7 linked regions of the Homo sapiens genome follow. The protein of the gene in region 5 purifies or fractionates together with the protein of the main gene of each other region. This does not show direct contact. Each region holds a gene or a part of one and is shown on either strand. Other genes may lie near its edges.

The links.
Region 1: the proteins of KATNIP (region 5) and CEP290 purify together in Homo sapiens (tandem affinity purification; one large-scale study listed by IntAct). This does not show direct contact.
Region 2: the proteins of KATNIP (region 5) and KATNB1 purify together in Homo sapiens (tandem affinity purification; one large-scale study listed by IntAct). This does not show direct contact.
Region 3: the proteins of KATNIP (region 5) and IFT74 purify together in Homo sapiens (tandem affinity purification; one large-scale study listed by IntAct). This does not show direct contact.
Region 4: the proteins of KATNIP (region 5) and IFT52 purify together in Homo sapiens (tandem affinity purification; one large-scale study listed by IntAct). This does not show direct contact.
Region 6: the proteins of KATNIP (region 5) and TRAF3IP1 purify together in Homo sapiens (tandem affinity purification; one large-scale study listed by IntAct). This does not show direct contact.
Region 7: the proteins of KATNIP (region 5) and OBI1 purify together in Homo sapiens (tandem affinity purification; one large-scale study listed by IntAct). This does not show direct contact.

The regions. Positions count from the first base shown.
Region 1 is NC_000012.12:88,079,589-88,083,088, reverse strand, and holds part of CEP290 (centrosomal protein of 290 kDa), read left to right. Parts: coding exon 1-58; intron 59-712; exon of another isoform or gene 713-776; intron 777-2,693; coding exon 2,694-2,907; intron 2,908-3,500. UniProt on the Homo sapiens protein: Involved in early and late steps in cilia formation. Its association with CCP110 is required for inhibition of primary cilia formation by CCP110.
Region 2 is NC_000016.10:57,749,270-57,752,769, forward strand, and holds part of KATNB1 (katanin p80 WD40 repeat-containing subunit B1), read left to right. Parts: intron 1-1,557; coding exon 1,558-1,658; intron 1,659-1,991; coding exon 1,992-2,033; intron 2,034-2,371; coding exon 2,372-2,455; intron 2,456-2,670; coding exon 2,671-2,786; intron 2,787-3,260; coding exon 3,261-3,332; intron 3,333-3,500.
Region 3 is NC_000009.12:27,050,412-27,053,911, reverse strand, and holds part of IFT74 (intraflagellar transport protein 74 homolog), read right to left. Parts: intron 1-3,500. UniProt on the Homo sapiens protein: Component of the intraflagellar transport (IFT) complex B: together with IFT81, forms a tubulin-binding module that specifically mediates transport of tubulin within the cilium. Binds beta-tubulin via its basic region. Required for ciliogenesis.
Region 4 is NC_000020.11:43,639,437-43,642,936, forward strand, and holds part of IFT52 (intraflagellar transport protein 52 homolog), read left to right. Parts: intron 1-3,042; coding exon 3,043-3,188; intron 3,189-3,500. UniProt on the Homo sapiens protein: Involved in ciliogenesis as part of a complex involved in intraflagellar transport (IFT), the bi-directional movement of particles required for the assembly, maintenance and functioning of primary cilia. Required for the anterograde transport of IFT88.
Region 5 is NC_000016.10:27,752,644-27,756,143, forward strand, and holds part of KATNIP (katanin-interacting protein), read left to right. Parts: intron 1-1,529; coding exon 1,530-1,608; intron 1,609-3,500. UniProt on the Homo sapiens protein: May influence the stability of microtubules (MT), possibly through interaction with the MT-severing katanin complex.
Region 6 is NC_000002.12:238,327,018-238,330,517, forward strand, and holds part of TRAF3IP1 (TRAF3-interacting protein 1), read left to right. Parts: intron 1-1,668; coding exon 1,669-1,812; intron 1,813-1,908; coding exon 1,909-2,325; intron 2,326-3,500.
Region 7 is NC_000013.11:78,652,656-78,656,155, reverse strand, and holds part of OBI1 (ORC ubiquitin ligase 1), read left to right. Parts: intron 1-3,500. UniProt on the Homo sapiens protein: E3 ubiquitin ligase essential for DNA replication origin activation during S phase.

The sequences.
Region 1 (3,500 bases), on a different chromosome or scaffold from region 5:
AGAGACAAAGAGAAATCACTGAATTAAAAGTAAAAGAATTTGAAAATATCAAATTACAGTAAGTCTTCGAAATGTATTGTAAAAATAGGCAAATGATAAGTGATATAATGAAGATAAACATAAGTGTTTGCTATGCCAGGCACTGTTCTAAGACTTTTAAGTATATTGTCTCATTTTTATCCTCAGGACTGCTGGTTACATATGTTATCATTTTCCCCATTTTAAAGAGAGGATATGGCCTCAGGAATGCTTAATAGCATGTCTGGGGGTAGATGGGAAAGCCATAATTTGAAACTAGTCAGTCTGACTCAAAAGCCAATACAAATTCTTTTCCAGAATCTCATTTTTACCTTCTTTGAGCCTCAGTTTCATCTTATTTATTTATTTTTATTTTTGAGACAAGGTCTGGCTCTATTTCCTAGGCTGGAGTGCAGTGACATAATCTCAGCTCACTGCAACCTTGACCTTCCAGGCTCAAACCATCTTCCCACCTCAGCCTGCAGAGTAGCTGGCACTACAGGCAGGTGCCACCACACCTGGGTAGTTTTTTTGTATTTTTGTAGAGACAAGGTTTCTCCATGTTGCCCAGGCTGGTCTTGAACTCGTGAGCTCAAGTGATCCGCCCACTTCGGCCTCCCAAAGTGCTGGGATTACAGGCCTGAGCCATTGCACCCAGCCTCATCATCTTTAAAATGGAAATAATAATACTTACCCTGGCCCTTTCAGGGTGGTTATATGAAGGTCAAATTATACCGTGTATGAAAGTAATTTGAAAACTGTAAAATAACATACAGATAGAAAACTTTTGATTACACACTTATAAGAGTGTCTGTCATATAATAGAGATTCTAAACATTGTTCAACCACTTTATCAGAACGTAGATTTTAAACTCAAAATAGGTTTATAGTTAGGTAGTTTCTAATCATTATAATATTATCTCTATGGGCCTAAATTTTATTATCTGAAAAAACATGAGAAAATTGAACTGCTTGACTTATAATTCCATTTCAGCTCTCAAGCCCCTGCTAGAGTCTTTGATTCTTTACTCACTTATTCAAATGCCTCTGACAGAATTAACACTATTTTTGCTTTGCTAAGGAGCTGCCACTGTTAAGAAATTACTCTCTAAAAGAAAGAAAATTGGCAACAGCATATGTGTATTTTCAGTCTCTTTTCCTCACTCTATTAAATTTTGTACAAGAGATGTTATTTTTGGTCTAGTAAATTTCTGTCATGTTTTGGAGTATAAAATTACTTGTGCTTTTGCATCTAATTTGTGGGTGTAGAAAATCATAATCTTTTGAAATACCTTATATAATACATTTTTTTGCCACAGGAAATACTTGAAGTTATTGTTGTGTACCTTACGTCATTTTAGTCCAAAATTATACTTGTGTTCTCTGTGTGCATATTTTGATATGTATTAGGAGATTATGGATCTGTGTGATTTCTTAAGTAAATCCTGATATTTTCACAATTTGATGATGACTCTTTAAAGTTAGACTTAAGTTTTGCCAAAAGCAAGAAGCCTCAAAGAGTAACATTTGTTCATGTCTTAACACTATCTCCCTCTTATTGGTCAGAATCTCAGTATGGATGCAGTGTCCATATGCACAACAATATATTAATTCAGTTTAACAGACTTAATGCTGAATAAGCAATAAGATTAATTGAATTAACTAAATCTTTTGATAGTATCCACTTCCATATATATAGTTATAGATATAATGCTAGTGAATTTGAACCATAAACAAATTAATAATACATGTGATTTCTGTGAAAATTTATATTAGTCTTTTCAATATGTCAATATAGGGCAGTATTTCTCAAATATAGAGGATCAGTTTTTCACCATTGTCCCTCTTGGGGACATTTGGCGATGTCTGGAGACATTTTTGATTGTCATGGCTCGGGGGTGCTACTGGTATCCAGTGGGTAGAATCAAAAGATGCTGCTAAACATCCTATCATGCACAAGGCAGCCCCACCACCAACAAAGAATTATCCAGTCAAAAATGTTACTAGTAGTATGGTTAGGAAACTATCATATAGAGGAAGCAATCACATTTTACAAGAGCCATAATATTTAAAATGCCTTTTTGTTCATTCTCTGTATATTTGACTAGAGTCACAAAATAACTTGATAAGATTGTTGCCAAAAATATTAGAAACTAGAAGAAAAATGTGTTGTTAAGTCTAAGAGTAGTTAAATGAAATAAAGAATTATTCTTCTTTGGATTTGGATGCCTGCATCAAGATTTAGATTGTAAGGATACTTAGGACTGAACATTTGCTCTATATGAAATTTGTATTAATCAAGGTATGAATTGCAGCAACCACTCTATTAATTACATATGTTTGGCCAGGTGTGGTGGCTCACACCTGTAATCCCAGCAATTTGGGATGCCAAAGCGGGCTTATCACCTGAGGTCATGCGTTCAAACTGGCCTGGCCAACATGGTGAAACCCCATCTCTACTAAAAATACAAAAATTAGCTGGGCCTGATGGTGCACGCCCGTAGTCCCAGCTACTCAGGAAGTTGAGGCAAAAAAATCACTTGAATCTGGGAGGCAGAGGTTGCAGTCAGCCGAGATTGCGCTGCTGCACTCCAGCCTGGGTGACAGAGTGAGACTGGGTCTCAAAAAAATTAAAAATTAAAAAACACACACACACATATGTTTATTTACATCAGGCTTCAAGAAAACCATGAAGATGAAGTGAAAAAAGTAAAAGCGGAAGTAGAGGATTTAAAGTATCTTCTGGACCAGTCACAAAAGGAGTCACAGTGTTTAAAATCTGAACTTCAGGCTCAAAAAGAAGCAAATTCAAGAGCTCCAACAACTACAATGAGAAATCTAGTAGAACGGCTAAAGAGCCAATTAGCCTTGAAGGAGAAACAACAGAAAGTAAGTAACAACAGAAAATTATCAACATTTAGGAAAAATATGTGGTAGATTGCTTTTAGAGAAGATTTGTAAATTTATAAAAGATGGTAGTATAAATCTCCGTGTTGTAATAAAAAGTATGAGCTTTATCTTATGCTGTTAAACAAGGTATTTTAGACAATGCTGTTTTTGTGGGCAGATATAGTCCAATTTATCTTTTTATGTTTTCGTCAATCTGATTTGTGAATTATCTATATGAAGTTAGGAAAAATCTTAATGTACATTACAAAAATATAATATATATTACATTGTATTTTCTTTTTTTCTACTGGAATTTTATGCTACTGAGGCTATTTTTAACAAATGAACAATTTTGAACAATTTGAGGGATTGAGGGAAGTATGATAATGACAAAAAGGGATGAAAAAAGGGGGTCATAGAGATGTTTTTGTGAGAAGGAGTTGGTCAGTGTATTCTGATTTATTAGGGTTTTTTTTAGTTTATCTCAGATTTGATCTATTTAAATTGTTTTAGAAGATGCTGGTGTTTTTCTGTGCTAGCTATGAAATTTATGGGTAAACTTTAAGCCTTTCCTAGTCCTTTTGTTGTCTACC
Region 2 (3,500 bases), about 30 Mb from region 5:
GCACTTTATGTATGTTTACTCCATTCTGTGACCCAACATGAGGCCCAAAGACAGTAAGTGATTGGCCAGGGTCACACCACCAGTGAGGAGCGGAGCCAAGGCTGATCCCAGTATTGTCTGATGCCAGAGCCCACATCCTGACTTTGGGGGTAGAGAAGATCATACAGTAGAGTTCATTTAATTCACCCAGTGCTTGGATCTTGACTCTGCAGTAAAGTGTTATATATGGAATCTTGAATACCTCCTCTGACAGAGAGCTCACTACCTCACAAGGTGACCTATTGCACCTTGGCTCAAAACTAAGAATGGCTGGACTCCCACATTTCCTGACCCTGGCACTTGGGATGGTCAGTTTCATTCAGATAGTGAATTATGAATCTTTCCAAAAGCAGGAAACATGAGACAAATCTGAGTGGTACTGGAGGACACCCTGAAACACACAAGGTTTGCCTCCAGGCTGGGCCGCTCCTGGCCATGGAGATGCCTGCAAAACCTTCAAGGAAAGGATAGGAGATGTGGTTCCTAGGGCAGTGGGAGGCGATCAGGCCCCACCCCAGGAGTTCTTTGGTCCTCGCGTGTCCTCCCTGTGTCCTCTCAGTTCTCACTGCTCCTCAGTGTGTCCTCACAGCCACCCTCAAGATCCCTTGGACAGAGGTCACCCAAGAAGACTGGTGTGTGCACCAGGGCCACCCCAGCCATGCCCTCCACTTGCCCTTCTTAGGGCCTTTGCCCATCACCTCCATCTACCTAACAGCATCCCTCATCCTCCACCCACTGACATCTACTCAAATACCACCTCCTCCATAAAGCCTTCCTGGATTTCTCTTTCCAACCAAGCAGCTTCTCTCCCAGCTTGAACCTCTCCTGGTCTGTCTCTCTCCTTGCACTGTCTTGGGTGGGGTTCAGTGCCCTGCAAACCATAAGCTCCACACCCATGGGGCCTGAACTGAGTGTGGTGGTTCCCTGGTTCTGCTTCCGCTGGAGCACAGTCTGTGGGGAGAGTGTGGTACAATTTCTGCAGACTTGAGGTAACATAGGGCTGTCACCTCTCAAGAGAAATGTGGGAAAATTAGTTGTTGGCAGGACGCAGTGGCTCACACCTGTAATACCAGCGCTTTGGGAGGCCAAGGCGGGTGGATCACTTGAGGTCAGGAGGCCAGCCCAGCCAACGTGGTGAAAACCTATCTCTACCAAAAATATAAAAAAATTAGCCGGGTGTGGTGGCACATGCTTGTAATCCCAGCTACCTGGGAGGCTGAGGCAGGAGAATTGCTTGAACCCGGGAGGCAGAGGTTGCAGTGAGCCGAGATCACGCCATTGCATTCCAGCCTGGGCGACAGAGCAAGACTCCTTTTCAAAAAAAAGGAAGAAAAGAAAATTCGTTGTTAGGGTGGTGGGACCCTTGATTGTTTCCTACTGTTTTAAAAATGTGTGTTATTGTTCTATTTTTCTGTGCAGCTAATCCAAAAGCGCACACACAAATGCCCACAGCAGCCCTTCCTCTGCCAGCCTTCTCATTTGCCTCTTAGCCACTGTCTCTGCTTTCCTTCTTGTTAGTTCTTCGCACACTCATGGGACACAAAGCCAACATCTGCAGCCTGGATTTCCACCCGTACGGCGAGTTTGTAGCCTCTGGTTCCCAGGACACAAACATCAAGGTGAGAGGCCGGTCCGTGCCCCGTGTCTCCTGCTGGGCCTGTGGCAGGACCAGCCCGGCCCGGCCCTCAGTGCTGGATGCCTGCTGAGGGGACCTCTTCCCTTTCTGCAGCCACATCCACACCATCCTAGGGAAAGCGGGTGGCAGGCATCTATCTGCCAGATGCTTCTGCTCAGAATGCCAGCTTTAGTGAGCAGTTTCTGTCCTTGTCTCCGTGGGGAGTAACGACCTAGAGAAGGCTGGGCCCCACCGTCTGCTCACGACTGCACACCTTCCTCCAGTCGTGGCTCTGACCTCTCCTGACTCTGCCCCTCTGCTTCTCTCTCCCCCACAGCTCTGGGACATCAGGAGGAAAGGCTGTGTCTTCCGATACAGGGTAAGGATGCGCTCTGTCGGTGACTCCATGAGCACCTTGCGGGCATTGAGTGTGGTGTGGTGCCCAGACCCCAGCAGGGGGTGGAGGGGACGGCTGTCCCACATGGGTGATAACATAAAACATAGACCTGGAGCTGAGCAGGAGCGCCATGGGCGGCCCACCTGGATCCCCTGGCTCTGCATGAATCCCCTAGAGCCACGTTCATCAAACTGCTCCAAGCAGAACCAGGCGGGTAACCAGTGTTGTTAGATGGAAGGGGTCCCATAGGAGTGAGGAGGCAGGGAGAGGTCTGTTGGGCCCAGGATCCCAGGGTGAGCTCATGCCGTGTCCTCCCTCAGGGGCACAGCCAGGCCGTGCGGTGTCTCCGGTTCAGCCCCGATGGGAAGTGGTTGGCGTCGGCCGCAGATGACCACACCGTGAAGGTAGCTCCCGGCCTGACCTGGGCCCAGGGGCTGGGGGCTGGGGTCTGCTGATCACAGCAGGCTGAGTCCTCACCTCCCTCCTGATCGGGCTCACATGTCCCAAGCCTATCCCGAGTGGAAGGTAGCTTGTGGATAAAGAGCTTGGCCTGGATTAGAGGGAGGGTGGGCAGCCAAGATGCCTGGTCACCCTGACCTCCTCCCTGCCCTGCCTCCAGCTCTGGGATCTCACTGCCGGCAAGATGATGTCTGAGTTCCCTGGTCACACGGGGCCTGTCAACGTGGTCGAGTTTCACCCCAACGAGTACCTCCTGGCCTCCGGCAGCTCTGACAGGTGAGGAGGAGGAGCGAGGCGAGTTGCTTGTGACTGCTGTCCTTCACCGCCTTGTCCTCTGTGCGTGTCTCTACTGCCGGTCTGTCGCTGTCTGGGGTGTCATACGTCTGATGATCCTGTGTGGACTGAATTGGATTTCAGCCGAGCCAGGACTGGACCCTGGTCCATCTCCCCTGGCTCTGGTTCCCTGGCCCCAGTGTCCCAGGTCTGTGGCTTCATGGGCAGGTTGGGACCCAAGGCATCTAGTGGGACCCCATAGGGCAGGGAGGCTCGTGGCTGTTGGGGCCAACCCTGGGGCCAGGGCCATCGGGCCGAGCCTCCCCCTTGCAAAGTCAGGGCCAGCTCTGCCCCAGATGTTGCTCCTGGTGGCCCTGCCCTGGGGGAGAGGTTTCTAGAGAAAAGCTGGCTTCCCAGGGACATGTGGAGGCCAGGATGAGGGATAGGCTTCGCAGCACAGCTTGGCTGCCTTTGCAGGACAATCCGCTTCTGGGACCTGGAGAAGTTCCAGGTGGTGAGCTGCATCGAAGGGGAGCCTGGGCCCGTCAGGTACGCAGGCTGTGGGGTGGGCGGCCCAGCGCTCCTCCCGGCAGTGGGGCGTGGCTGTGGGTGGGCCTTTCCCATCTCCGCTGCTGCGCCCTCCCTGCCCTGGGCCCTCTGGATTCCTCGGGGTGGGGACCAGGCTGGGTGCCACAGGACCCACGGCCATCTCTCGCC
Region 3 (3,500 bases), on a different chromosome or scaffold from region 5:
GGTTAGAAATAGTTATGAGAATCAAAGAGCTGAACAAGTGACTAAGGCTTATGCTATTTTAATGCTCGAAATAGGAACTGTTTTTAGCCTGTAGATATTTTGACTATTTGGAGTAAACACTGATATAAATCTAACTGCAAGTTTAATTTGAATATATACTAGGGAAATACATTTAAGAACCATACAAATTGATTTTTCTTGATAAAAGGAGAAAATGGCTGGTATAGGGTAAAGTTTATCTTCCTTTAACAACAGGTCCGCAATGAAAAGCTAAATGCTACTCCAAGGGAAGAGACAGGAAGAGGATGCAGTCTAGTTCCTTCTGATATGCCGTGAAGTTGCAAAGTTTACCAAGCAGTGTGTACATAGGAGCAAAATCTCAGAAGGAACCACTTTGACCCGGGGAAGTGTTTCTAAGATAGTCTGTCATCAGCACATTTGTTTACTCTCTGGAGTTTCCTTTCCAAAAATATAAATAAAAAATATTGCTCATAAATCCCTTGCCTCTTTGCCCATGCAGTACACCAGTGTTTCTCAACCTTTTTCTTACATTATTGATTCCCTAAGAAGTCGATTACAGACTCTTTTTCCCCAATCACCTCCCTCCCCTGAAATTTTTACATCACCCATGTGGTGTGTAGCCATTTAGGTATGGTGACCTCTGGAGGGCCATTATAATATCTAAGTTTTCTTCACCCTTCCCCCAAGAAGTGATTGCTCCATTAAAAAAAAAAAAAAAAAAAAAAAAAAGGCCAGGCGCGGTGCTCACGCCTGTAATCCCAGCATTTTGGGAGGCCGAGGCGGGCGGATCACGAGGTCAGGAGATCGAGGCCATCCTGGCTAACACGGTGAAACCCCGTCTCTACTAAAAATACAAAAAATTAGCCGGGCGAGGTGGTGGGTGCCTGTAGTCCCAGCTACTCGGGAGGCTGAGGCAGGAGAATGGCGTGAACCCCTGGGGGCGGAGCCTGCAGTGAGCCAAAATCGCGCCACTGCACTCCAGCCTGGGCGACAGTGAGACTCCGTCTCAAACAACAACAACAACAACAACAACATGGAGTACACTAAATCCATTCTATCTGAAAGGCGAACAAGAATATTATAAACCTCTCATGGTGTTTTGAAGATACAAAAAAATTTCTTGAGGTGGGGGATGGTGTTAGGGAAGGAAAGAAAGAATAAATTATATGGTTGGTTGAAGTTAAAATGAAAACAATGTAGTAAATGAAATTAATTATAAGCATCAAAGAATTTAACCCTTACAAAGAAAAATTTCCAGCAAAATCCTTATCATACTATTAAACTGGATTTTTATCTCCATTGAAGCCAGTTTTCAATTTTTTTTCAAACTGTACATCTCAGGAGAACACATAATGACTACTTTTTTTTTTTTTTTTTTTTTTTGAGATAGATTTTCACTCTGTTGCCCAGGCTGGAGTGCAATGGCGCGATCTCGGCTCACTGCAACCTCCACCTCCCGGGTCCAAGTGATTCTTCGGCCTCAGCCTCCTGAGTAGCTAGGATTACAGGCTTGCACCACCACACAGGCTAATTTTGTATTTTTAGTAGAGATGGGGTTTTACCATGTTGGTCAGGCAGCTCTTGAACTCGTGACCTCAGATGATCCGCCCGCCTTGGCCTCCCAAAGTGGTGGGATTACAGGCGTGAGCCACCTCCCCTGGCCCATAATGACTAGTTGTTAAAAGGAATTATAAACACAAAGTATAAAGTACGGAATGAATACAAAGTCTTGATTATTGAATTTGTTTCCTGGTATTGATTTTTGCCTTTTAAAAAATGTACATTTCTTGACAGCTGTTACAGAAAGATAGCTTAAAGGGGGAAAAACTTGTTGAATTTACATTGACTTTAGATAAATGAAAAACTTAGGCATGAAGGTCTAAAATACGAAACAGAGGTTTTCTAAATGAAATAAAACTATAAAATTATTTAGTTTATAGAAAAGAGAAAATATTCTTAAATATTCATATATGTCCAAAAGAAATGAAAATAGGATCCTGAAGAAATACTTACACACCCATGTTCACTGCAGCATTATTCACAATAGCTAAAAGGTGGAAGCAATCTGTCTGTCTACAGATAGACTTTAAAATATGATATATACATGCAATAGAATGTTTCAACCTTAAAAAAGAAAATCCTTCTTTGCTACAACATGGATGAACCTTAAGGACATTACGCTAAGTGAACTAAGTCAGTCCCAAAAGGACAAATACTGTATGACTTCATTTATATGAGGTAATTTAAAGTAGTCAGACTCATAGAAACAGAAGTAGAACGGTGGTCTCCAGGGGTCAGGGGATAGGGAAATATGGAGTTGTTATTCAGGAGGTAAAGTGTTTTTGTTCTGCAAGATGAAAAAGTTCTAGAGATTCGTGGCACAACAATGTGCATATAGTTAACACTACTGTACTGTATACTTCAAAATGGTTAAGATGATAAATTTTGTTATGTGTTTTTTTACCACAATAAAAATATACTCACAGTCAAACCAACAGTAGTTATATATCAAGAATGTAACTCCTCCAGTTACTTGGCATATAGACATACAAAAAAAAACTACGGCAAACAAACTCTCAACAAATCTGGATATAAAATAGGCTTAAATATAGCAATTATATACCTATATCACCACTACTAATGCAATTAATAGCATTCAGTATGCATTTATAGGTCCATAATCCCTTATCTAAAACCCTTGGGCAGTTCTATTTCAGAATGCAGAATTCTTTGGATTTTAGAAAAGTAATACAGCACATATACTTATGATTACATAACTCCCATGGCAAAGTCTGAGGGAATACCTTGTCATCAAGTACACGAATATTTCTATAGCAAAAAGCATAAATAGTCACACTAGGTAGGATAATTAAAAACTATAAATAGCCTCACGTCAGTTCAGGTCAGGTCAGGTTTTGCTGCCAATATCTTTTTAGATTTTGGGAATCCAGATAAAGGTATTATGGATCATTATTTCATTTCAAAAATCTTTTATATATATATATTATTATACTTTAAGTTCTAGGGTACATGTGCACAACGTGCAGGTTTGTTACATATGTATACATGTGCCATGCTGGTGTGCTGCACCCATTAACTCGTCATTTACATTAGGTATACCTCCTAATGCTATCCCTCCTCCCTCCCCCCACCCCAAAACAGGCCCCGGTGTGTGATGTCCCCCTTCCTGTGTCCAAGTGTTCTCATTGTTCAATTCCCACCCAAAAATCTTTCAACATTCTTAAGTTAGCAAATATTAATTAGGTCTTCATTTCTCACTATCTCACTAACTGTAGTAATTCCAGGTAGACAAAAACATAGCTAATTCAAAGCTGCAACACACCAGCATAAAGAACACCCACAGAAGCCATTAGTTCATAAACCAAAGATCCCATACAAATTTTTACATGACCTTATCCTAGTCTCTTTAACCTCAACTTTGTTTATTTGTATCTAATCTCCACCTGCACCATCCCAAT
Region 4 (3,500 bases), on a different chromosome or scaffold from region 5:
AAGGTGGGCAGATCACCTGAGGTTGGGAGTTCAAGACCAGCCTGACCAACATGGAGAAACCCCTTCTCTACTAAAAATACAAAATTAGCTGGGTGTGGTGGCGCATGCCTGTAATCCCAGCTACTGGGGAGGCTGAGGCAGGAGAATCGCTTGAACCCAGGAGTTGGAAGTTGCGGTGAGCCGAGATCGTGTCATTGCACTCCAGCCTGGGCAACAAGAGCGAAACTCCATCTAAAAAAAAAAATTTTTTTAAGTAGCCAGGTGCGGTGACGCATTTCTATATTCCTAGCTACTTGGAAGGCTGAGGTGGGAGGATCACTTGGGCCCAAGAGTTGGAGGCTGCAGTGAGCTATGATACACCTTGCACTCCAGCCTGGGTGACAAAGGACCCTGTTTCTGAAAAATAAATAAATAGAAACAAAATAGAATATTACATACCTGTTAAAAGAAAAATGTAGCCTGGGTGCGATGGCTCACACCTATAATCCCAGCACTTTAGGAGGCTGAGGCAAGAGGATCACTTGAGACCAGCCTGGGCAACACTGTGAGACCTCTTCTCTATAGAAGAATAAACAAAATTAGCCGGGCATGGTGGCTCACTCCTGTAGTACCAGCTACTCAGGAGGCCCAGGTGGGAGGATTGCTTGAGCCTAGGAAGTCAAGGCTGCAGTGAGCTAAGATTGTGCCACTGTCCTCTAACCTGGTTGACAGAGCGAGACCCTGTCTCAGAAAAGAAAAGGCCAGGCGCAGTGGCTCATGCCTGTAATCCCAGCACTTTGGGAGGCCGAGGCAGGTGGATCACAAGGTCAGGAGTTTGAGACCAGCCTGGCCAAGATGGTAAAACCCTGTCTCTACTAAAAATAAAAATAAAAAATTAGCCAGGCATGGTGGCAGGTGCCTGTAATCCCAGCTGCTTGGGAGGCTGAGGCAGGAGAATTGCTTGAATTCGGGAGGTGGAGGTTGCAGTAAGCCAAGATCACGCCACTGTACTCCAGTCTGGGTGACAGAGTGGGACTCCATCTGAAAAAACAAAAAAGAAAATAAAAAAAATGCAGGGCATAAACTTTGATTCGGAATGTCCATAATACATCATTAAATGATGAAGTCAACTTAGAAAACTATTCTAGTTTGATCCCATTTTTGTGAAAACTTACATTTACACACAGAAGCATACATAGCAATAATAATTCTAGGTAGTTGGTGGCAGTAGAACTAGGATGAAACATTGATACAGCTGTGGGTTTGAATGTCTTAGTAAAAAACATACATTTCTATCAAAACTTAAAATGCAAATCAGAGGGAGAATAAATTAATTACAGCTGGGCTCAGTGGCTCATGCCTATAAGCCCAGCACTTTGGGAGGCCAAAGCAGGTGGATTGCTGGAGCTCACGAGTTCGAGACCAGCTTGGGCGACATGGTGAAACCCCGTCTCAAATACAAAAAATCAGCCAGGCGTGGTGGTACACACCTGTAGTCCAAGCTACTTGGGAGGCTGAGGTGGGAGGATGGTTTGAGCCCAGGAGGCAGAAGTTGCAGTGAGCTGAAATCATGCCACTGCACTCCAGCCTGGGTGATAGAGCCAAACCTTGTCTCAAAAAAAAAAAAAAAAAAAAAAAAGGAAGAAAGAAATTACAGTATAATGTGAGAAGGGCAGTAATGGCTGTCTATCCTACATGTAGGGCTCCAGAGGATGGCTTCACAGAGCTATGTTGTTGGTGGAATTATGGGTGATTTTTTTCTTTAATTTTCTTTCTATAATATTGTTTGTTTTTTGGGGTTTTGTTTTGTTTTGTTTTGTTTTGAGACCTAATTTTGCTCTTGTTGCCCAGGCTGGAGTGCAGTGGCACGATCTTGGCTCACCACAGCCTCAGCTCACTGCAACCTCTGCCTCCCGGGTTCAAGCGATTCTCCTGCCTCAGCCTTCCTGAGTAGCTGGGATTATAGGCATGCACCACCACGCCCGGCTAATTTTGTATTTTTAGTAGAGATAGGGTTTCTCCATGTTGGTCAGGCTGGTCTCGAACTCCCGGCCTCAGATGATCCACCTGCCTCAGCCTCCCAAAGTGCTGGGATTACAGATGTGAGCCACCACGTCCCCCAGGCTGGAGTGCAATGGCGTGATCTCAGCTCACTGCAACCTCCGCCTCCCAGGGTTAAGCAATTCTCCTACCTCAGCCTCCCGAGTAGCTGGGATTACAGGTGCGCACCACCATGCCCGGCTAATTTTTTTGTATTTTTAGTAGAGACAGGGTTTCACCATGCTGGCCAGGCTGGTCTCGAACTCCTGACCTCGTGATCCGCTCACCTTGGCCTCCCAAAGTGCTGGGATTACAGGCGTGAGCCTTCACGCTCGGCTGTTTTGTTTTGTTTTGTTTGAGATGGAGTCTGTTCTGTTGCCCGGGGTGGAGTGCAGTGGCGCAATCTCTGTTCACTGCAACCTCCATCTCCCCAGTTGAGGTGATTCTCCTGCCTCAGCCTCCCGAGTAGCTGGGATTACAGGCCTGCATCACCACATCTGGCTAATTTTTGTATTTTTAGTAGAGATGGGGTTTTGCCATGTTGGCCAGGCTGATCTTGAACACCTGACCTCAAGTGATCTACCTGCTTCAGCCTTCCAAATTGCTGGGATTACAGGCATGAGCCACCACGCCCAGCCAATACAATATTGTTTTAGTAAATGCTATTTTTAATTACCCATATGCTTCTCTATAGTCATCTTTGTTGCATTCAGGGAATGATAATTTGATTTCCTACTGTTGCACCTGTTCTTTCTAATGTAGGAATACTAGATCTGAGGAATAGGAAAGCCAGTACCAGTCCAGTTTTATTCTGATTAGGAGTGCTTTTATTATAAAAGCAGCACATTAGAGAGCTCTAGGGTTTTTCAGTGTTGAAATCCTGTAGTCACATTACTTTAGGAAGAGGTGAGTGATCTTAGGAAATGTGGAAACATGACAGGGCATACCTGAAACACACTAAGTCTGTACTTTGGGAAGGGCAGAAGTTAAGAATTAATCTAACTACTACTCCAACTGTCTTAGGTACTGAAGAAGACCTGGAATTTTATGTCAGGAAGTGTGGTGATATTCTTGGAGTAACCAGTAAACTACCAAAGGACCAACAGGATGCCAAACATATCCTTGAGCACGTCTTCTTCCAAGTGGTGGAGTTCAAGAAATTGAACCAGGTACAGAGCCTACAAGGCACAGTGTAGTGGGAGCCCCTCCAGTACTGGTATCTTCCATGGACTGTGCTTGCCATGTTTTATGACGTTGATTCAGCCTGTAAATATTTATTAAGCATCTACTAGGTGAACAAAACAGACAATAAACCCTGTACTTATGGAACCTATATACTAGCTGGAGGATGTAGACAATAAGCAGTAAACATAAGTGAGTCACATAGGATGCTAGAAAATGGTAAGTGCTTTGGTATAAAAGAAGTGGAGGCTGGGCGCAGTGGCTCACGCCTGTAATCCCAACACTTTGGGAGGCTGAGG
Region 5 (3,500 bases):
GGGGCTCAAGCAATCCTACCACCTCAGCCTCCTGAGTAGCTGAGACTACAGTGCATGCCACCATGCCTGGCTAGTTTTTTTTTTATTTTTTGTAGAGATGTGGTCTTGCTATGTTGCCCAGGTTGGTCATGAACTCCTGGACTCAAGCGCTTCTCCCACCTTGGCCTCCCAAAGTGCTGGGATTACAGGCAAGAGCCGCCACACTTAGCCAGATAAACAAATCTTTTAAAATGAAAGATGACCTTCAAGGTCAATTCAAGTCAGGACCAATAGGAAAAAGAGGAGATGGTTAAACAGGGTAGGGGAGAAATGGGGACAACACAAGCCACAAGGGATGGGGCTGGGCTGTGGGAAGGTCATGACTGAGGCAGGACAGCAACATGTCGTGTGGACCCCATGGTGTTCCCTGGGGATTGTACCTCGCAGCCAGGCAGAGCATGGGGTGCAGGAGCAGGGCATGGGGAGGCACAGGCAGCTGGGGAGTGCGTGCCCCTCCCCCTCCCCACATCTAAGGAAAGCGGCCACCAAGAGGGGCAAGCCCATTGTTGCCAGTTCTCCTGATTTTTACAAGAGAAGCCAGAAAGCTGGATTTTTCTGTAAAACCTCTCCATTTAAAAATGCTGGCAGTGAATTCAGATGTGTTCAAACCTTTTTTGGGCCACAAGCCGTGCCTGTGCTCCTGATTCGACCCAGGGGTCTCCAGGTGGGAGTCTACCCTGGGCGCTTCCATTTGCCCAGCGTTTTCCAAATGACAAAGGTGCTCGTAAGGGACTCTGATGGGCCCAGCGCTGTGAGGGGCTGGGGGGATCACTCTCTCAGTCTCGTGAGAGACCAGCGCCTTCACTTATGGTGCAAAGAGACAATGAGCAAATAGTTTATATGTAAGGCCCAAGAAGGGTGTGGTGGCCCACCGTTGACTCTCTGAAGACCAGGATTTTTTATCCTGGCTACCCGTGGAAATCACTTGGGTGGATCTTTAAAAATGTCTGGGCCCCACCCCTAGAGATTCTGCTTCAGTGAACAGCCAAAGTTAAGAGCCACTCTCTATGGTTTGAATTCTTCCACTTCCCCTTCCTTCCTTCCTTCCTTCCCTCCCTCCCTCCCTCCTTCCTTCTTTTCCTCCTTCCCTCCTTCCTTTCCTCCTTCCTTCCTTCCTTCCTCTCTCCCTTCCTTCTCTTCTTCCCTTCCTCCTCCTTTCCTTCCTTCCTTTCTTTCTTCCTCTAGCTCACCACATAAGCATTTATTGAGTCCTTCCCTGTTGGAGGAAATTTAAACACCTTAGCTGTTAGCATCAGGCTCCTCCCCAGCCAGTGAGAGCTGCTGACAAGGATGCAGACCCTGGAGGGTCAGGGTCCGCCCATATCACTGGTCCCATAGCTTCCACAAAGGCAGAAAAATCCAGGAAAACACACAAGGACTTACCTGGGCATAGGGTGGGCAGTGGTAAATGCAGAAACAGCCAGCCAGCTAGCTGTGTGGGTATCACTAAAACCACCCCCTTTTCCTCTGCTTCTCCAACCCATGTGCAGATCCCGGAGCTAGAGCTCCCATCCAGTTCCCCTGTCCCCCAAGTCACCACGCCAGAGCCAGGCATCTACCACGGAATCTGTGAGTAGCTCTCCTGGAGCAGTGTTGGGTGGAAGGAGGACCTTCCAGGGACAGGGGGAGTTGTGGCCACTTGGGACAGGGTTTCGCTGGACAATCGGGTGGGTTGGACACTGTACAGAGACACCAGGCCATGGGGCAAGTGGAGGCTGAAACCAGCCTGCGCTCAGCTCCCTGGCCCTAGCAGGGCCACCTCACTCCAGAGGAGGGGCATCTCTTAGCATTTTGCCTTCCCTGAGGGGCATTTTTGCATGCAGACACCCTATGTGTTAGCTGTGACCATGACCCTGACCCAGGAGGTGTAGTTGGCACCCAGAAAGTGTAGAACAAGAGGACATTAGAGCCTGAAGAGACCCAAGGCATCTGTTGGTGCAGTGCCCCGAGCTGTCTCTTCCAACTCCACCAAAGAGTAGATGCACAGGCAGAGAAAACCTGCATCCACTCTGCCCCGGGGGTGGGGGCAGGTGCACAGGCCCAGGGTACCAGGTCTTCTGACTTTTCAGAAGAAGTCGGAAATCTAGAGTCTTACGTGAAGTCTCCAGATTCTCAAATGTGTGTAACGAATTTTCTCATGTTTTAAAATATCACATGAGCCAAATAAAACACTTATTGTGTATCTGGCCAGCTGGCTGCCAGTTTGTGACTTCTGAGCAAATCCCAGGGGTTTTCTGCTGGGCCTGTTCCTCACCCTTCTTTTCCATTGATCCTTCCAGCCAGTTCCTCTCTTCATCCATGCGTGTCCACATCAGCCCCTCCCCGTCCTGGGGAATCTTCAAGCCCAAGGTCACTGCTGATTGTGATCTCCTCCCTCCTGCACCCTGCTAACCAGGTTCCTGGCAGCCTCACTTCCTGCTCTCTCCTGCCCCCTGTGAATGTGACCCGCTTCTACTTTATCTTCTGAGACAAAAGATGTGACACTGTCAGGATCCCCTCCCCACCTCCCCATCCTCATCTCCAAAATGAAGCTGGAGCCTCTCCGAATCCTGGTGTCAGCCCTTCCGGGACCTCCCCATGCCATCTCTGGAGTCCACCTGCAGGCACCTGTGCAAGCCACACCTTCCACCTAGGATGCCTCCCTGCTCCATCTCTGCCTTCTGACGACCACCTGTCGCTGGCTAGGTTCCCTAGACACAGACCCTGAGATGGAGTTTCCTGGGGTGTGCTCTTGTCAGGGAAGGGTAGGAGGCAGGATTGGGCAGAGGGAGAAGCTGGTCTGCGGTTCAGCCACTTCAAGGCCTCAGCCTGCTCCACAGGGAGCTCGGAACCTGGGATGGCCCTTTGGGGTCATCCTGAGTTGAGTGAGGGGCCATGTCTTTATCTGTATCAACATGGCACTGGCTATGGGCTGCCCCTGGGGAGGGGCATGGCTTTTTATTTTACTTTTTAATTTGTATTTATTTATTTTGACACAGTTTTACTCTGTCGCTCAGGCTGGAATGCAGTGGCATGATCTCAGCTCACTGCAACCTCCGCCTCCCAGGTTCAAGAGAGCTCCTGCCTCAGCCTCCCAAGTAGCTGGGATTACTGGTGCCCACCACCACGCCCGGCTAATTTTTGTAATTTTAATAGAGACAGGGTTTCACCATGTTGGTCAGGCTGGTCTCGAACTCCTGACCTCAGGTGATCCACACACCTTGGCCTCCCAAAGTGCTGAGATTACAGGCATGAGCCACTGTGCCCAGCCGGACATGGCTTTTTGCAAGGAGACTCTCTTCAGCCAAGGGCAGTCACAAGTCAAGAGCCTCAGTGGTGAGCTGCCAGCCGTCAGCACTTCCCGCCACCAGAGGACTAAGTCCTTCTGTTCCTGGGGGTGGGAGGTGGGGTCTGAGCAGTGCCCTAAGTGAGCTCCACATCCCCTCCCTTATGGCCCTTCTGCGACCGCATCTCCTCCCCAG
Region 6 (3,500 bases), on a different chromosome or scaffold from region 5:
AGTAGCCTCGGGTCTGGGCCAGCTCCATGGCACAGCTTGTGAGGCTCCTAGAGACCTGCTGCTACTTCTCTCCCTTCAGATCCTTCTCTCGTTTCCCATATCTGAGCCCTCCATTCCAGTCGCCACGCACCCCTGCATTCGGCCCTGGCCGGCTGTCTCCCGTCGGCCTCTTGCCCTGGTGCCTGCTGGCTTCTTGGTACCTGAGCTGCCTTCCTCCTCCAGCCTCACCCAGCAACAATGTGGCGTCTGTGAGTGCTTCCTTGAGCCTGGGCCTCTCCTCCCTCCCAGGCTGACTTAGGTGCCCCTGTAGGCTTCCTATAGGCTGTTGTTTAATTGTTGTGTTTATCTGTGTCCCCAGTACACGGTGTGTCTTTGGCCTAAATGGAGCCTGGCACGCGGCAATCACGCAGCATGTGCTTGTGGAATGAGTGCGTGAGTCAGTGGGACTCCTGACTGAGGTGTCCTGCACTCTGGATGGCTGTCGGGGATGCTGGAGAAGGAATTTTTGCGTTTGATGGGGCTTGAATCAGATCAGTGGTTTTTTACCCATAATTTTATTATTGTGTTAAAGTCCATAAAACATAAAATTTGCCATCTTAACCATGTTGAAGTGTACACTTCAGTGCTGGTAAATTCATTCATCTGCAGCCATCACCACCTTCCATCTCCAGGACTCTTCTCCTTGCAAAACAGACTCTGTCCCCATGAAACACTAACTTCCTCTTCTCCCGTACCCCAGCCCCTGGCACCCTCCATTCTACTTTCTGTCTCTATGAATCTGACTACTCTAGGGACCTCGGATAAGTGGGGTCATAGAGTGTTTGTCATTTTTTTGACTGGCTTATTTCACTTAATATAATGTTCTCAAGGTTTATCCATGTTGTGGCATGTATCAGAATTTCATCGCTTTTTAGGGCTGAATAATATTCCATTGTAATGGATATACCATATTTTGTTTATCCACTCAACTGTCAATGGTACAGTTTGCTCCCACATTTTAGCTATTATGAATAATACTGCTATGAACATGGGTATACAAATATCTCTTCAAGACCCCGTTTTCTATTTTTTTGGATAAATACCCAGAAGGGGAATTATTGGGTCATATGGTAAATCTGTGCCTAATTTTTTGAGGAGCTGTTATACTATTTTCCATAATGGCTGCATCATTTTACATTTCCACCAACAGTGCATGAGAGCTTCAATTTCTCCTTATCCTTGCCAATGCTTGTGGTTTTGTGTGTTTTTTTTTAGGAGCAGCCATCCTAATGGGTGTGAGGTGGTTAGATAAAATCTTAAGGCACTTATGGCTGGGATTCTATGATCCCATTAGAAGTTTAAGGTATTTGTAGTAGAGTTGCATGGGTCAGCTTTATTAACCTTGAACACACACATTCACATTTGACAGCTTGGGTAGACTTGAACCAGGATTCATTTAGCTTGGGTGGACGCTACTGTTAGTGACCAAAGTGCTGAAAGTAATAGTTATCAAGATATGCTGTGCTTTGTATGTGATAATAACATGTTCAAAAAATATTTTATCCTTTGAATTTCATTGTAGACAGAGAATCTGTCTCATGAGCTATCTTTGAATGGCGATGTTCTATTTGTTACGTGTGCGGATCTCATTTCACCTAACACCTCATTTCCTTCCATTTGGACGACAAGCTCTCTAGTGACGATGCGGTGCGGAGGGTTTTAGCTGGAGAGAAGGGAGAAGTGAAAGGCCGGGCCTCACTGACCTCAAGATCTCAGGAATTGGATAATAAGAATGTGCGAGAAGAAGAGTCCAGAGTTCACAAAAATACAGAGGTGAATTCCAAGTCGCACATCTTTGAAAATGAAATAGTGAGTCTTTTTGTAGTTTAGGTAAAAATATTCATAAATGATTTTATTTTTATTTCGTAGGATAGAGGAGACGCTGAAATAAAAGAGAGAAGTACAAGCAGAGATCGAAAACAGAAGGAAGAATTGAAAGAAGACCGCAAGCCAAGAGAAAAGGACAAGGACAAGGAGAAGGCCAAGGAGAATGGCGGAAACAGACACAGAGAAGGGGAGAGAGAGAGAGCCAAAGCCCGGGCCAGGCCAGACAACGAGCGACAGAAAGACAGAGGCAACAGGGAGCGGGACAGAGACTCCGAGCGCAAGAAGGAGACAGAGAGAAAGAGTGAGGGGGGGAAAGAGAAGGAGAGACTGAGAGACAGGGACCGAGAGCGCGACCGGGACAAAGGGAAGGACAGGGACAGACGGAGAGTGAAAAACGGGGAGCACTCCTGGGACCTGGACAGGGAGAAGAACAGAGAGCATGACAAACCTGAGAAAAAGGTAAAGTCTTGCTGAGAACCTCGCCTTTTGCTTAGCAAGAGTTTGTGGTGGTCTCAAACATGATTTTTACCTTTCTTACAATATGACTAGGAAACTGGTTTTCTTTTATGCCTATTTAAAATGATGACAATCTTGGATTCTCAATAGAAACCCAAAGAGATACTTATTTCTTGTCAGTTGTGTTTTGGGTTTTTTTGTTCATCCCCTAATAGAAGTTTATTGTTCAGCCAATCATTTATTAAGGCATTATTCAGTGAGTTTTTAACCATTTCCTACTTCATGTCCAGGGAGAATTCTGCTGGATTATAAGCTCCCTAAGAGCAAAAGCTAGAGATTTCACTCATGTTCACTGTTGGATGCCCAGTCTGATAGAGTGTCTGACACATAGCAGCTTTGCAGTAAATATTTGGTGGTGGAATGGATTGAGCATCCAGGCAAGGGGTGATGGGCTTTTCAGATCATGAAACACTGGATGGAATTGATCAATTGATGGTGGTTTCTGAGGTCTCCCTTTATGGAATTTTGATCTGGGAGTGGTAGAAGATAATTTGAAGGGGGATGTCAGGAAAATATTAAATGCTTGCTCTTTTTAGGGTTTAATGATTCCCCACCAGGCATGTAGAGAAATCAACGTTTTTCAGAGTTTGAGCTGATTTGCCAAGTTGCTCTTGTCCTTGTCTTGCAGGTGTTTTAAGATGTGTTGCTTCTCCCGTGCGTGTCGTTTGTGTCATTTGTGTCACTCTCAGTATTGCTCTGAAGGCTTTGGAGCAGCCTCCACCTTAGCATTGCAAGCGGTGTTTATGCGCAGTCTGAGTTGTGCATGTGGTGTCTTTAGGAGCATGGACATTGCTCAGTTATTAAGGATTAGGGCTGCTTTCAAGGGCTTTTAGGCATCAGCAGATAAGTACAATAAGACCTGAGTTTACTGTAATTATTGTTTAATTAAATTTTCAGGTAAATTTAGGGTTTGCCAGGAAGTCCTGTTGGTTTCAAACTGTTTTCTCAATGTGTGAATTCTTTCTGGACCCACCATGTGTGTTGGGGACGTTTTCCCAGACACCCAGACACGCATTCTTTGGGGGATGTCAAATTGTAAAGCATCCCGCGAAGATGTTGGAAATCATCTTGTCTCCAGCTGCTAGGAAGGAGGACACTGAGGTCGGGAAGGGATCCAG
Region 7 (3,500 bases), on a different chromosome or scaffold from region 5:
TAACTGTTAGCTTTTACTATAGCCATTGAGGCCAGCCCTCAAACTGAGGAAACCAGCCTTTTCCAGTAATTGTTCTTCCCAGTTGCTTTGTGAGGCTGGAGCACTTCAAAATGAAGATTTGCATTCCCAACCAAATGAGACCTGTTTGTTCTGGAAATTGCCACAGTACATCCAGAATTTTCAGCTGGTTCCATGTCTCTTTTCTTTTTTATAGTGAAAGCAAATTCAGTATGATTGTGCTGCTCACCCTCCTACACGTATTATACTGTGAGATACTAAAACTGGCGTGTCCTCAGGTTCGCTTCTGCTTCCCTGACATAGAGCATCTCTGGCCACTTCTAAGAATGTTCCTAAGGTCCTTCGTGCCTAGCTCTTTTTTAAAGATAATTGTTCTTGTGCTACTGTTACCATATGTCCCCAGATCTCACAGTCAGCATCTTCTCTTTTGATTATTCAACAGAATTAAGGACCATTATCCCTGGAGGGTCACAAGGTGGATACCATGAAGGGGGAGAGATGAGGGCAGGGCATTAAATCTGAAGAGATAGATGCCAGTGGGGATGGAGAGGAAGGAGAGAGAGCCCAGGTATTCACCTGTTAATGCTTTGTCTTTGCACTTAAAATTGGAAAATTTACACCTCTGTCTCTACTTCAGTTTTAAAGGTGAATTTTCTCTACCCAATAATGTTTTTAGTTACTTTGCCAATATTGTAAGTAAGAGCTCTATGTGGCCTGAAGAAGTTAGGTACCATCCCATGGGATGATTTACGCATAACATATTTTCTTACCTATTCTTCCCTGTTTTTTTTTTGTTTGTTTGTTTCTTAAACTAGTGGGCCAGCAAGCAGAAATGTAGTAATGATCTATCCCAGAGTATCTGTTAAGTGACATTTTGATAGTGCCACCAGGCTGTTACAAACCAGTTTACCTCTAGATAATTCCAGGGTTTATCTTTTCAATTGGGACTCAAGCTGTGAAACCAAATTATGGCATGTAATACTTTTTATTGGCCGTGCATGCATTTTGCCATGAGTGAAAGCCAAATGTGGCCCGCAGTTGGTTTTATGAAAGGGTGAAGGAGATTCTCAAGAGAAATGCAAAGCAACTAATGCTTTTCAGCATTAATGTATCATATTCAGTTATTTCTCATTCGACTATGAGTCCAGTTTTGGGTCCTACCCTTTAAGATAAACAATAAACCAGAGTATTTTGAAAACATTTGGGGGAGAATGAAATTGGGATTGGAATGTAGGTGGACTGGAATAGTGCTGGAATGAATGGATATGATAGGGAATCTTTAATTAAAATATTTTTCATTTGGAAGGGACTCAAGCCTTGTGTGGCTCCATAAAATTATGATTTCTACTTAATATTAAGGGCAAGTGTTCTGGCTGAAATAACCAGAAATGAAATCAGCTTCCTTATAATGCAGGAGTTCCTGTGTCTTGGAGTATCCTCTAGTAGACTGACTGTTTCCCATAAGGAATGCTATCAAAAGGATCCCTTCTTTCAGGGATGCCTCTCTTCTTCTCACCCATATTGTTTATTTAAAATATTGAAAATATAGGGCTAGAGACAAAGCCTTATGCAACTTAGAGTCCTCACTCTAGGATGACAAAATTCATTAATCACTGTTCACTTGGAGCTGTTGATTGATCAGCAAGTCATCCACGTCAGTACATGGAGCCCATGTTTGAGTCCTGATTGCCTCTCAGTTCCCAAGAGTGGATTTAAGAACCAGCCTTGTACATAATTGTCATAAGTAATTTGCTTTGAAAAAAAGCCATATGGACTGCAAGTTCTACATTTTTCTCTTTTTTCCAGTTGAAAATAAGTTTGAAGGATTCACTTTCAGAAAAGTATAACAATATTGCATTTTATACATAGTGTATAATAAGTTAATTCAAAAATCGTAGATGTATCCTAGTAATTATCAGGGTTGGTATGTAATAGCTGACATACTTACTTGACAAGTACAATTCCAGTTTATCCCAAAGCATTTCTGGTAGGGATGAAGGTAGAAGAGAAGAGATGTATCATCTCTCCTTTTACCTAGACAGGAATGGGGAACCAGTTCTATAGGCATTAAGTGACTTATTTCACACAGGTTTTTTTTTTTTTTTTTTCCTTAAGTTATAGGACCTAAATTCTGGCCCAGAACCAGGGATTTCTTAAAACATAACCAAGAGCTATCCAGGAATTTTATTTTGGAAAGTTTCCAAATTCCTAATGTTGAAGTAGTGGTGCCCCTACCATAGTCATTTTTACACTGAAGACTAATCCTTTACATAGTCTTTCCAGGTCTTCACTAGAGAAACCGATAAAGTTTTGACAAGGTGCAAGAAAGAATAATATTCTTTCTAGAAGCACAGTTGGCTCTTGTCTCTAGTGAGGGGAGGATGCCAGAAGAGCAGGGGAGTTGGTTTTATAATAGATATAATTGCAAGACCAGTTGGTAAAGTTCATCAATACCGTCTTCACTCCCATCACCTCCATCAGTGTCCAGGATCTCACTTCCTTCAGGCACATCGTCCTGTATTTATTTCTCCCAGATTATTGTTCACTAACCCTGCTCCAAGGAAGAAAGAACTGTTTCTTAGTTGAAAGAACACATGATTTTGCAGTTGAATCACATTGAGTACAAATGCTAGCTCTACCATTTATAACCTGTATCATTATTTCTTAGAGTCTCAGTTTCCACAACTGAAAATGGATTTGATACAACAGCCCCACTAGCTTATTAGTAAGATTCCTTTGACTATACCATACTAGTGGTTCTCAACTAGGTGGAGGTAGATTTTGTCCCCCAGGGACATGGGGCAGTGTGTGGAGACATTTCTCATTGTTTTCAAGGGGCTGCTACTGGCATCTAGTGGGTAGAGCCCAGGGATGCTGCTAGCCAGACATCCTGTAATATGCAGGGAACCGCCTAAAACAAGACTTTCTTCAGTCCAAAATGTTAGTAATGTCAAAGTTGAGAAACGCTGTTTGAAGCCAATGTGTAACTCCTAGTGGGTAAGTCTAGGATGATATGGATATTAATGAACAACAGCCTTAGGCATGTCTCTGCCCAAGTATACTTGCTTTTTTAAGAAAGGGGATTTGGTGGTAGAGTGGACTCTCTTAAGACTGGAACATCTTTAAAAGAAATGAAATATCAGAGTAACAGATTGTAAGGTTAATATATCTGCCCCAAGAACTGCCCCCTCAGGCCCATTCCAGTAAGAAGAGCCCATCCTTTACACCTGGGGGATATACCCTAGGGCAGGAGTCTCCAGTCTCAGTCAGGTACTGTTCAGTCAGTGGCCTATCAGGAACCAGGACTGCACAGCAGAAGGCGAGCAGGGAGTGAGATAGTATTACCACCTGAGCTCTGCCTCCTGTCAGATCAGAGGCAGCATTAGATTTTCATAGGAGCATGAACCCAAATGTGAACTGTGCATGCAAGGGATCTAGATTGTGTGCTCCTTAGGAGAGTCTAATGCCTGATGTTCTGAGGT